Regions from separate parts of the Homo sapiens genome. Here region 2 is linked to region 1. Evidence: fine-mapped expression QTL. A gene starts in region 1. The other region holds a variant in brackets. All regions are shown on one strand. Distances are between the middles of the regions. Region 1 holds the start of ATF1 (activating transcription factor 1). Region 2 overlaps ATF1 (activating transcription factor 1).

Evidence for each region. PIP is the estimated chance that this variant, and not a neighbour inherited with it, causes the effect.
Region 2: its variant is the best candidate, but not a certain one, in a credible set for the expression of ATF1 in esophagus muscle (GTEx, PIP 0.80).

The regions. Positions count from the first base shown.
Region 1 is chr12:50,761,476-50,765,869 of GRCh38, reverse strand. It overlaps ATF1 (activating transcription factor 1), which reads right to left and starts at 1,769. Exons shown (of 7, transcript NM_005171.5): 1 at 1,563-1,769. RefSeq lists enhancers at 906-1,005, 3,306-4,174 and silencers at 1,426-1,515, 1,736-1,815.
Region 2 is chr12:50,817,840-50,822,233 of GRCh38, reverse strand. It overlaps ATF1 (activating transcription factor 1), which reads right to left. Exons shown (of 7, transcript NM_005171.5): 7 at 1,072-2,599. The coding sequence ends at 2,455. Among named protein-coding and RNA genes, the nearest start is that of TMPRSS12, 23 kb to the left of the region's middle. The variant A/G (reference allele first, on the strand shown) is at 2,252.

The DNA.
Region 1 (4,394 bases):
GGATTAATCACGCCTCCCCTTTTTAGACCATATAGGGTAACTTCCTGACATTGCCATGGGATTTGTAAATGGCGCTGATGGGAGTGTAGCAGTGAGGATGACCAGGGGTCACTCTTGTGGCCATTTCAGTTTTGGCCGGCTTCTTTACTGCAACCTGTTTTATCAGCAAGGTCTTCATGACCTGTATTTTGTGCTGACTTGTCTCATCCTGTGACTTAGAATGCCTTAACTGTCTGGGAATGCAGCCCAGTAGGTTTCAGCCTCATTTTACCCAGCTCCTGTTTAAGATGGAGTTGTTCTAGTTCACACGCCTCTGACACCATCTCTATTTAAAAACAAACAAACAAACAAACAAAACAAAACAAAAACTGGCAAAGATAGCACACCCTATATTTAAAGTCAGAAGGGACTGCCACCTGCTGGTGATCGGGTAGGAATGGACAGATAGCTCACAGACCAAACCTAACCCTAAAAGATAACGGCAAGTATTAAAGAGCTAATACATTCGACTTTAGGGCAACAGTATTGATTCTAATTAAGACACGGAGATAACTGCATATGATAAACTCCAAGAAAAAAGAGCATTTTAGAAGAACGCATTTCTGTTAACAAAAACCTCAGGTTAAAATGCATTCTGAGACATAAATGCCTACGAACTCATCACAGGTGAGGCCAGTTTGACAAAGATGCCTGCCAGATCCACGCCGAGCTTCTGAACCCTAAAGGTTCTCAAAGACTACCAGTTGCCCAATCTCTTCAAAACACTAGCGCCACAACCAGACATTATTTCACATTGCAATCATTTCAAAGCGATTCAGCCGCCAGCTGCACGGCGTCGATCAAAGTGAGAAATGCCAGGCTTCGTTTTTTGACATACAAGATCAAAGAGAAAGTCACCCTCGGCTGGGTCGCCCATCCCAAAGGGTACAGACGCCCTTGTGTCATTCCTAGCCAGGGGTAAAGCCGCCTACTGTCCCCACTCTGTCTCCGCTGCCAGGCGCATCTCTCCAGGACTGTCTGGGGCGTGCGCAATGCCCGTGCGTCGGTTGCCCGCTAGACTGCAAGCTCCAGGAGGGTAAGGGGCGCGCCTCTTCCCTCAGGGTCGCCAGCGCCGACGCGCTTCGAGGACCCTGTCGCGGGGTTAACCAGACCCGGGCTCCGCTCGGCGGACACCGCGCCGAGGCCATATCCGCGCCGCCCTCCGCCCGGCTCCGGGCCCAACCTCGAGACCTCCCACGGAGAGCTAGCGCCTGCGACTGCAAAGGGCGGCTTCTGAGGCGAAAGCCACCCCGCGGCGGGCGGTTTCGGGCTTTACTTTTATTTGGGGGCGAGGGAAAGGAGGAGACGCACGACTGGAAGGGCGCAGCGCAGCTCTGCACCGAGGCGCGGAGGCCGGAAGCGCGGGCGGCCCCTCCCCCTGCCGCTGCGCCCCTCCCCCACCGCCACCACCGCGCGCGACCCCCACCAGGCGCGCGACCCGCGCTGCGTCCCCGCCGGCGCCACGTTCCCGCGTCCTTCCCCGCCCGGGCCACGGGGCACGTCCCTCCCCGCCCCCCACTTACCTGTGGCTGCCGCCTCGCCGCTCTCCGGGGCGGGAACTTCCACTCCCCCCTCCCAGGTAGATCCGAATTCACTACCCACTTCCCCACCCCCTCACGCAGCGGGGGACAAGCCTCCTTCTCGGGGGTCAGGCGGGGCGGGGAGAATCAGTGTCACTTAACAGCCAACTGTCCTAAGCTACCGTTTCCTCGGCAGTCAGGGCCGCTACTGGCGGCATGATCTACACAAGCCTGGGGGCGGGGGCGGGGGCGGGGGAGGGGAGGGGGGCAAAACTGAGCACTAGTGTGCGTTTGGGGTAGGCTATGGCGCTGCCTCCGCGCGGGCCGCCGTCCTGCGTCACCGCGCTGCCCACGTGACGCGCCGCCATCTTGTACGCGGTCCTGACTTGTGGCTAGGGGTTCCTCGGAACGCGTTCCTCAGGCTGCAGCGGGAGAGGGACGGTGCCTGCGGTTCCGTTTCTCCTTAGGAGCTGTACCCCACCCGCCCTACGTCCGCTTCCGGAGGCCATGAGCAGCTGGGTGCTCGCGGGGGGCGTTTTCATCGATTAGTGGCGGCGCTGTCAACTCACCTGCCAATTGACCTTGACCGACGCCGGCCCTGTCCTCTTGGAAGGAGAAATGAAGAGTGAAGGCTTTGACTTCCTCAGCTTTTTTTTTTTTTTTTTTTTTTTAGATGGAGTCTCTTTTTTTTTTCCGAGATTGAGACGGGGGTCTGTGGCCCAGGCTGTAGTGCAGTGGTTCGATCTCGACTCACTGCAGCCTCCAACCCCGGGATTCAAGCGATTCTCCAACCTCAGCCTATGGGGCAGCTGGGACCACAGGCGCGCGCTACCACGCTCGGCTTGAAGAGATGAGGACTCTATGTTGCTCAGGCTGGTCTTGAACTCCTGGGCTCAAGTGATCCTCCGCCTCGGCCTCTCAAAGTTCTGGGATTACAGGCGTGAGCCACCGTGCCCGGCCTTACTCAGATTTTTCTTAATCCCATAAAGTAACAATGAGTTGTGTCCTTTAACCCATGTGGAAGGATTTTCTACAGAAACGGATTTACAATGAGACATAACGATGTGGCCGGGCGCGGTGGCTCATGCCTGTAATCCCAGCACTTTGGGAGGCCCAGGAGGGCGGATCACCTGAGATCGGGAGTTCGAAACCAGCCTGACCAACATGGAGAAACCCCGTCTCTACTAAAAAATACAAAAGTAGCCGGGTGTGGTGGCGAATGCCTGTAATCCAAGCTACTTGGGAGGCTGAGGCAGGAGAATCGCTTGAACCCGGGAGGCGGAGGTTGCGGTGAGCCGAGATCGCACCGTTGCACTCCAGCCTGGGCAACAAGAGCAAAACTGTCTCAAAAAAAAAGAAAAAAGAAACGTAACAGAGTGTTAATAAAATGTTATGCCGTCATTTTAATGCATTACAAAAACTTCAGAATATTTTTGGGTCTACCTCTCTGGAAGGGAGTTATGCCTTATTCTTAATTTTTAAAATTTCCTTGTAAAATGCTGTTTTATGGCTTTAATGATAGTAAACGACAAAAGATAAACTTTTTTAGTATGCTCTTGACAAAAGTTCCGAAAGTTTTCTGAAATTTTACTAGTTTGAGATCCCCAATTTAGGAAACCGATTTAGTGGAGAGAGCTTTGCCTATTTTTGGCCCTTTGGGTCGGAGAATGTGATATAAAGCCGAAGATTTACTCTGCCAGACAGTCTTAAGAGGTCACTAACGTTTAGCTATTGACATTCAGCAAAAATTGTGGATTACCTATTAAATGCTAGACCAGGGGACAACTGTTATTAAGTCAGTGTTTCAGCATTACTGAAAGAAAAGTGGCCTATAAAGGTAAGGGAGAGGAAGAGTTTCTCAGATACCAGCCTTCGATGATTAACAAAGTCCAGCCTCAATCATTCTGGAATCCAGAATATTGATGGCTGGAAGGCTGGTTGTACAAGTTTATTGTTCTTTGGTGTTTGGTTTTTTCTTCCGTGGACCACAGAATGCTTAACAAAAGTTGATCAGTAAAAAGCGGGGGAGGGGCTAGGCGTCGTGGTTCATGACTGTAATTCCAGCACTTTGGGAGGTGGGGGAGGGCAGATCACCTGAGGTCAGGAGTTCGAGACCAGCCTGGCCAACATGGTGAAACCCCGTCTCTACTAAAAATACAAAAATTAGCCAGGTGTGGTGGCACACACCTGTAATCCCAGCCTCTCAGGAGGCTGAAGCATGAGAATCGCTTGAACCTGGGAGGCAGATGTTGCAGTGAGCCAAGATCACGCCACTGCACTCCAGCCTGAGCCACAGAGGGAGACTGTCTCCAAAGAAAAAAAATAAAAACCTGGAAATTTTATTGAAAAATGAAACCTTCAAAATGTGCCTTGACTACTTCTTTAGCTCCTCTTCCTTAGTGCCTTAGGTCTAAATCAAATGTTACGCTCGACCAGTCCTGGTGGCATGCGCCTGTAATCCCATCTACTGGGGAGGCTGAGGCAGGAGGATCATTTGAGCTCGGGAGTTTGAGGATACAGTGAGCTGTGATCATGCCACTGCACTCAAGCCTACATGACAGATGAGACACTGTCTCTAATTTTTTTTTTTTTTTTGAGATGGAGTCTGCCTCTGTCGCCCAGGCTGGAGTGCACTGGTGCAATCTTGGCTCGTTGCAACCTCCACCTCCCGGATTTCAGTGATTCTCCTGCCTCAGCCTCCAAGTAGCTGAGAGATTACAGGTGTGTGCCATCACAGCTGGCTAATTTTTGTAGTTTTTTAAGTAGGGACGGGGTTTCACCATGTTAGCCAGTCTTGGTCTCGAACTGCTGACCTCAAATGATCCGCCTGCTCAG
Region 2 (4,394 bases), 56 kb before region 1:
CCGAGTAGCTGAGACTACAGGTTCCTGCCACCTTGCCCAGCTAATTTTTGCACATTTTGTAGAGGCAGGGTTTCACCATGTTGCCCATGCTGGTCCCAAACTCCTGGTGCCACACAATCCCAATGCCTCAGCCTCCCAAAGTGCTGGGACTACAGGTGTGAGCCACCCGCCTGGCCTAATACACATTTTTATATCACTACTGTGACCTCATATTTTAATTGGAGAATGCAGGTTTAACCTAGTAGTTGCAATATAATAATTGCTGAATGAATAAATACAGTAAGAATTCCAAAATGCTAACAAATGCCCATTCTTCCTGCTCTGTTCAATATTAAAGGAATATCTTATATGCCCTATATGTGTTTGTGGACAATAATCTATTTCTATCAATATAATATATAAATGAGTAAATTGATAAGTAAAATAGCAAGTTGAACTAAGGAAATAATTTGATTAGTCTTTTGCATTTTGGAAGTCTAATTTCATGTTTGGACTATAATCACTTAAAAATTTGATAAGCCCCACATTGGATTCCAATTAGAAAAACACCCAGGAAAATAATTTGTTATGCATTTATGGAACCATTAATGGTTTGCCCTGACCTGTTTCATACAGCTAGAGTAAGTAACTGGGTCTAGTTAGCAAGGCCCTACACCAGAAGTCTGAAGGCAGCAGAGTTTACAAATATTTGCAGATGTCCAGCTGTTAAGGCACTAAGAGCTAGGCTACCTCTGTTGTAAACAAGCACGGTGTCTACCCAATAATATATTATCATCTGTTGAAAAAGTCTTTTGACATAACCCAGTGACCTCATACCTCCTCATATTCTTAGGCCTAACGGGCCACCAGTTTGAGATTCTGGCTTTACACAAGGTAGTAAGTGATATAAGTAATCCCCCTGGCGATCAAACTTTTTTTTCTTTTCATAAAGTGCTGCCAAGTCAACAGAGTCCCATTTTAAAAGACCCTTCTAATGAGAAATTTCATCAGGAGGGTCAAACACAAATGTATCAGTTAAGTGAAGATTTCTACGTAGCATTAGGATAATTAACAGCATGGCCAGGAGCAAGCTTATCATTCATATACCAAGCATTATATTTTACATTCAGTAGACTATCAAATGTCCTTTAATTTCACAGACAACAATATGATGCATACTGTGTAAGAGCACACAATAGTTTTGCAGTACAATTTTAAACTGTATACAAATTGGAATATAGATGTTAAACGCTGGTGTACTGACAGTATTTTTGAATTTTAGATAAACTGCATACAAAATTTACAATGCAAATATTAGCCAATCTGAAAACGTCCCATAATATAAAAATGATACTTTGAGATGCAAATTTTACTAAACTATATAAACATTTAAAATAATCATTAAAAACTCAACATTAGAATTTATAAAGATCAGCTATAAAAATATATTGGCAGTCACTTTTCTTATAAAGGTACCACTCACTACATTACAAAATAGTCTCTAACATAAAATTGCCTTAATAACTATACTATTATAGAATCTGATAAACCTTACATTATTAAATTGATTATAAAATCTTCTTGGAAAAACTTTGGTATGTATCTTCAGAAGGTTTTTTAAAAATAATATTTTAAGGGCCTGTAAACATTCCATTCTATTAAAGCACAGCAGAATAAGTAATGGATATTCAACTGCATACAGAATATAGACTCAAAAAAACAATTTATTATGTATTTGTAGAAAATCATTACCAGAGTAAGCAAAAAAACCAACTATTTAAAAGTATCAAACTTTTAAACAGTTCTTTTTCCATTCTGATAAAAAATGTTATAAAATCACCATACTCCATTCATGTACCTTAGATGCCTTTTAGGATAAGACCTCAAAAATAATTAACCTAGTCTCAAAAATCCATTCAAGTCCAATAACAAACTTTTAAAAACCCACTTAAAAAGACTTGACACTAGAACAAGTATACATAATCAGAACATATACTTTATATATTTAGTAATGTACTAGGTTTTCTCTTACCTTTGTAATTTAGAATTTATTGGCAGAAATTACACACACACACACACATATATATAACTAAAAAAAGGTAAATTTCAGCAAACAAATGCAAACCTGTAGGGTAAATGGATTTTTAAAAAAAATTCAGTTTATCAAATTTCATCTTCTCTGCCATTTTAGATTGGCAACTATTGGTTATTTAGAAAATTTAGACTGCTGAAAGTTCATTTCTTGCTCCTTGAATATGTTTAATTTCTACAA[A/G]GCTTCCAGTTGTGCCCGTAGCTTCCTTGAGGTCATTTTCCACTTTCTCCTCTGTCACTAGATATCGTGCGTAAGATATTTATCCTTGATTTGGAAAAGCCTAAATAAAAAGCTTCAGTTTTGACCTTTTAATTTATAAAACTCCACTAGGAAATCCATTTAATTTTTATGCATGTCCACAAAAATATTTTCTTTCTTAGGAATCAAACACTTTTATTGGAATAAAGATCCTTCAAAGTTTTTAACTCTTCTATTAGAGTTTTATTTTGATTTTCCAGGACTGCAACTCGGTTTTCCAGGCATTTCACATATTCTTTCTTCTTTCTGCGACATTCTCGAGCAGCTTCTCTAAATATGAGCATTAAAAAAACAATGTTAGAAAAAACTTCACATTCTTTAAATGGTAAATGTTCTTCAGTAATTTTCCGTGGTCACCTTTTTTTCTCTTTAAAGTATCATCTACACACAGAGAATACATAGATCTTAAGTGTAGAATTCAGTCAGTTTTGGCAATTGTGTATACCTGTATAACCCACACCTCTGTCAAGACAACAGAACATTCCCACTGTCCCAGAAAGTTCCCTCATGCCCCTTCCTGGTCAGCCCCCTTCCAAGCAACTATCGTTTTGATTTTTATCACCAGAGATTAGTTTTTTTCCTATTCTAGAACCTCATGTAAGAGTGTCATACACTATGTACTCTGGTGTCCCTTCACTCAGCCCATCTGAGGTTCATCCATGTTGCTGCATGGGGGTTTGTTCCTTCACACTGCTGGACATAGTTCACTGTATGAATATAACCACCATTTGTGTATCCAGTCTCTTGCGATGTTTCTAGGGTTAGCTGCATAGGCATGTTTTTGTGCCAGTCTTTTTGTAGAAAGGTTTCATTTCTCTTGAATAAATACCAAAGAGTGAAATTATGGGTCCTCTGGTTAACTTCTGACACATGACTTCTTTTATTTAAGTTCAAATTACAAACAATGCTTGAGCAAATACTCAGTTCTGTGCATGTCCTCTTAAAACATTTCTGTGAAGTCATATGTAAGTTTATATACATATAGAAATCGGAAGTATTGGCCAGGCATGGTGGCTCATGCCTGTAATCCCAGCACTTTAAGAGGCCAAGGCGGGCAGATCACCTGAGGTCAGGAGTTCGAGACCAGCCTGGCCAACATGGCAAAACCTCATCTCTACTAAAAATACAAAAATTAGCTGTGGTGGCACATGCCTGTAATCCCAGCTACTTGGGAGTCTGACCCAGGAGGATCACTTGAAGCTGGGAGGTGGAGGTTGCAGTGAGCCAAGATCGCGCCACTGCACTCCACCCTGGGCAACAGAGCAAGACTCTGTCTCAGAAAAAGAAAGAAAGAAAGAAACAGTACTATTTTAAGATTTTTATGCTATATATGTAGATACTATTTGCAACTTGCTTTTTAGTACACATCTTTAAAAGGACTGTACAAAATCTTTCCCCTCACAAAAAGACTTTATTTTTACCTTTAAGCTCTGTTTGTTTGTTTGTTTTAAGTGGTTTCCAGTAAACATTCTTTTTCTTTTTTCTTCTTTTGTTTTGAGACAGGGTCTCACTCTGTCAACCAGGCTGAGTGCAGTGGCACAATCACAGCTCATTGCAACCTTGACCTCCTGGACTCAAGATATCCCCACTTCAGCCTCTCAAGTAGCTGGGACTACAGGTGTACACCACCACACCAGCTAATTTTATTTTTGTAGAGATGAGGTCTCAGTATGTTGCCTAGGCTGGTCTCACTCCTGGTCACGGTGTCGGGATTATGGGCATGAGCCACCCACTCAGCCTCCATTCTTTACGTGTATTTCTACACATGTATTTCTTGAAGGATCACAAGCTATATTCACTTAAAGTCAAGAGATAGTGCCAATTTATATTCATTGAAGTACAGAGAAATAAGGGGGGAAAAAAGGAAGGAAAAAAATCCCAGAGTCAAACCAGAAAGAAAAAAGGGAAAAAATGCCAGAATGTCCTCCAGAGTATTTGTACCATTTACATTCCCAGGGGCAGTACATGAGAGTGCCTGTTATGAACATTTTAAAATGGTTGTCAGTCTAGCGGCTGACAAAAAGCGAACCTCACTGCTTTAACATTTCCCTCATTATGCACAAAG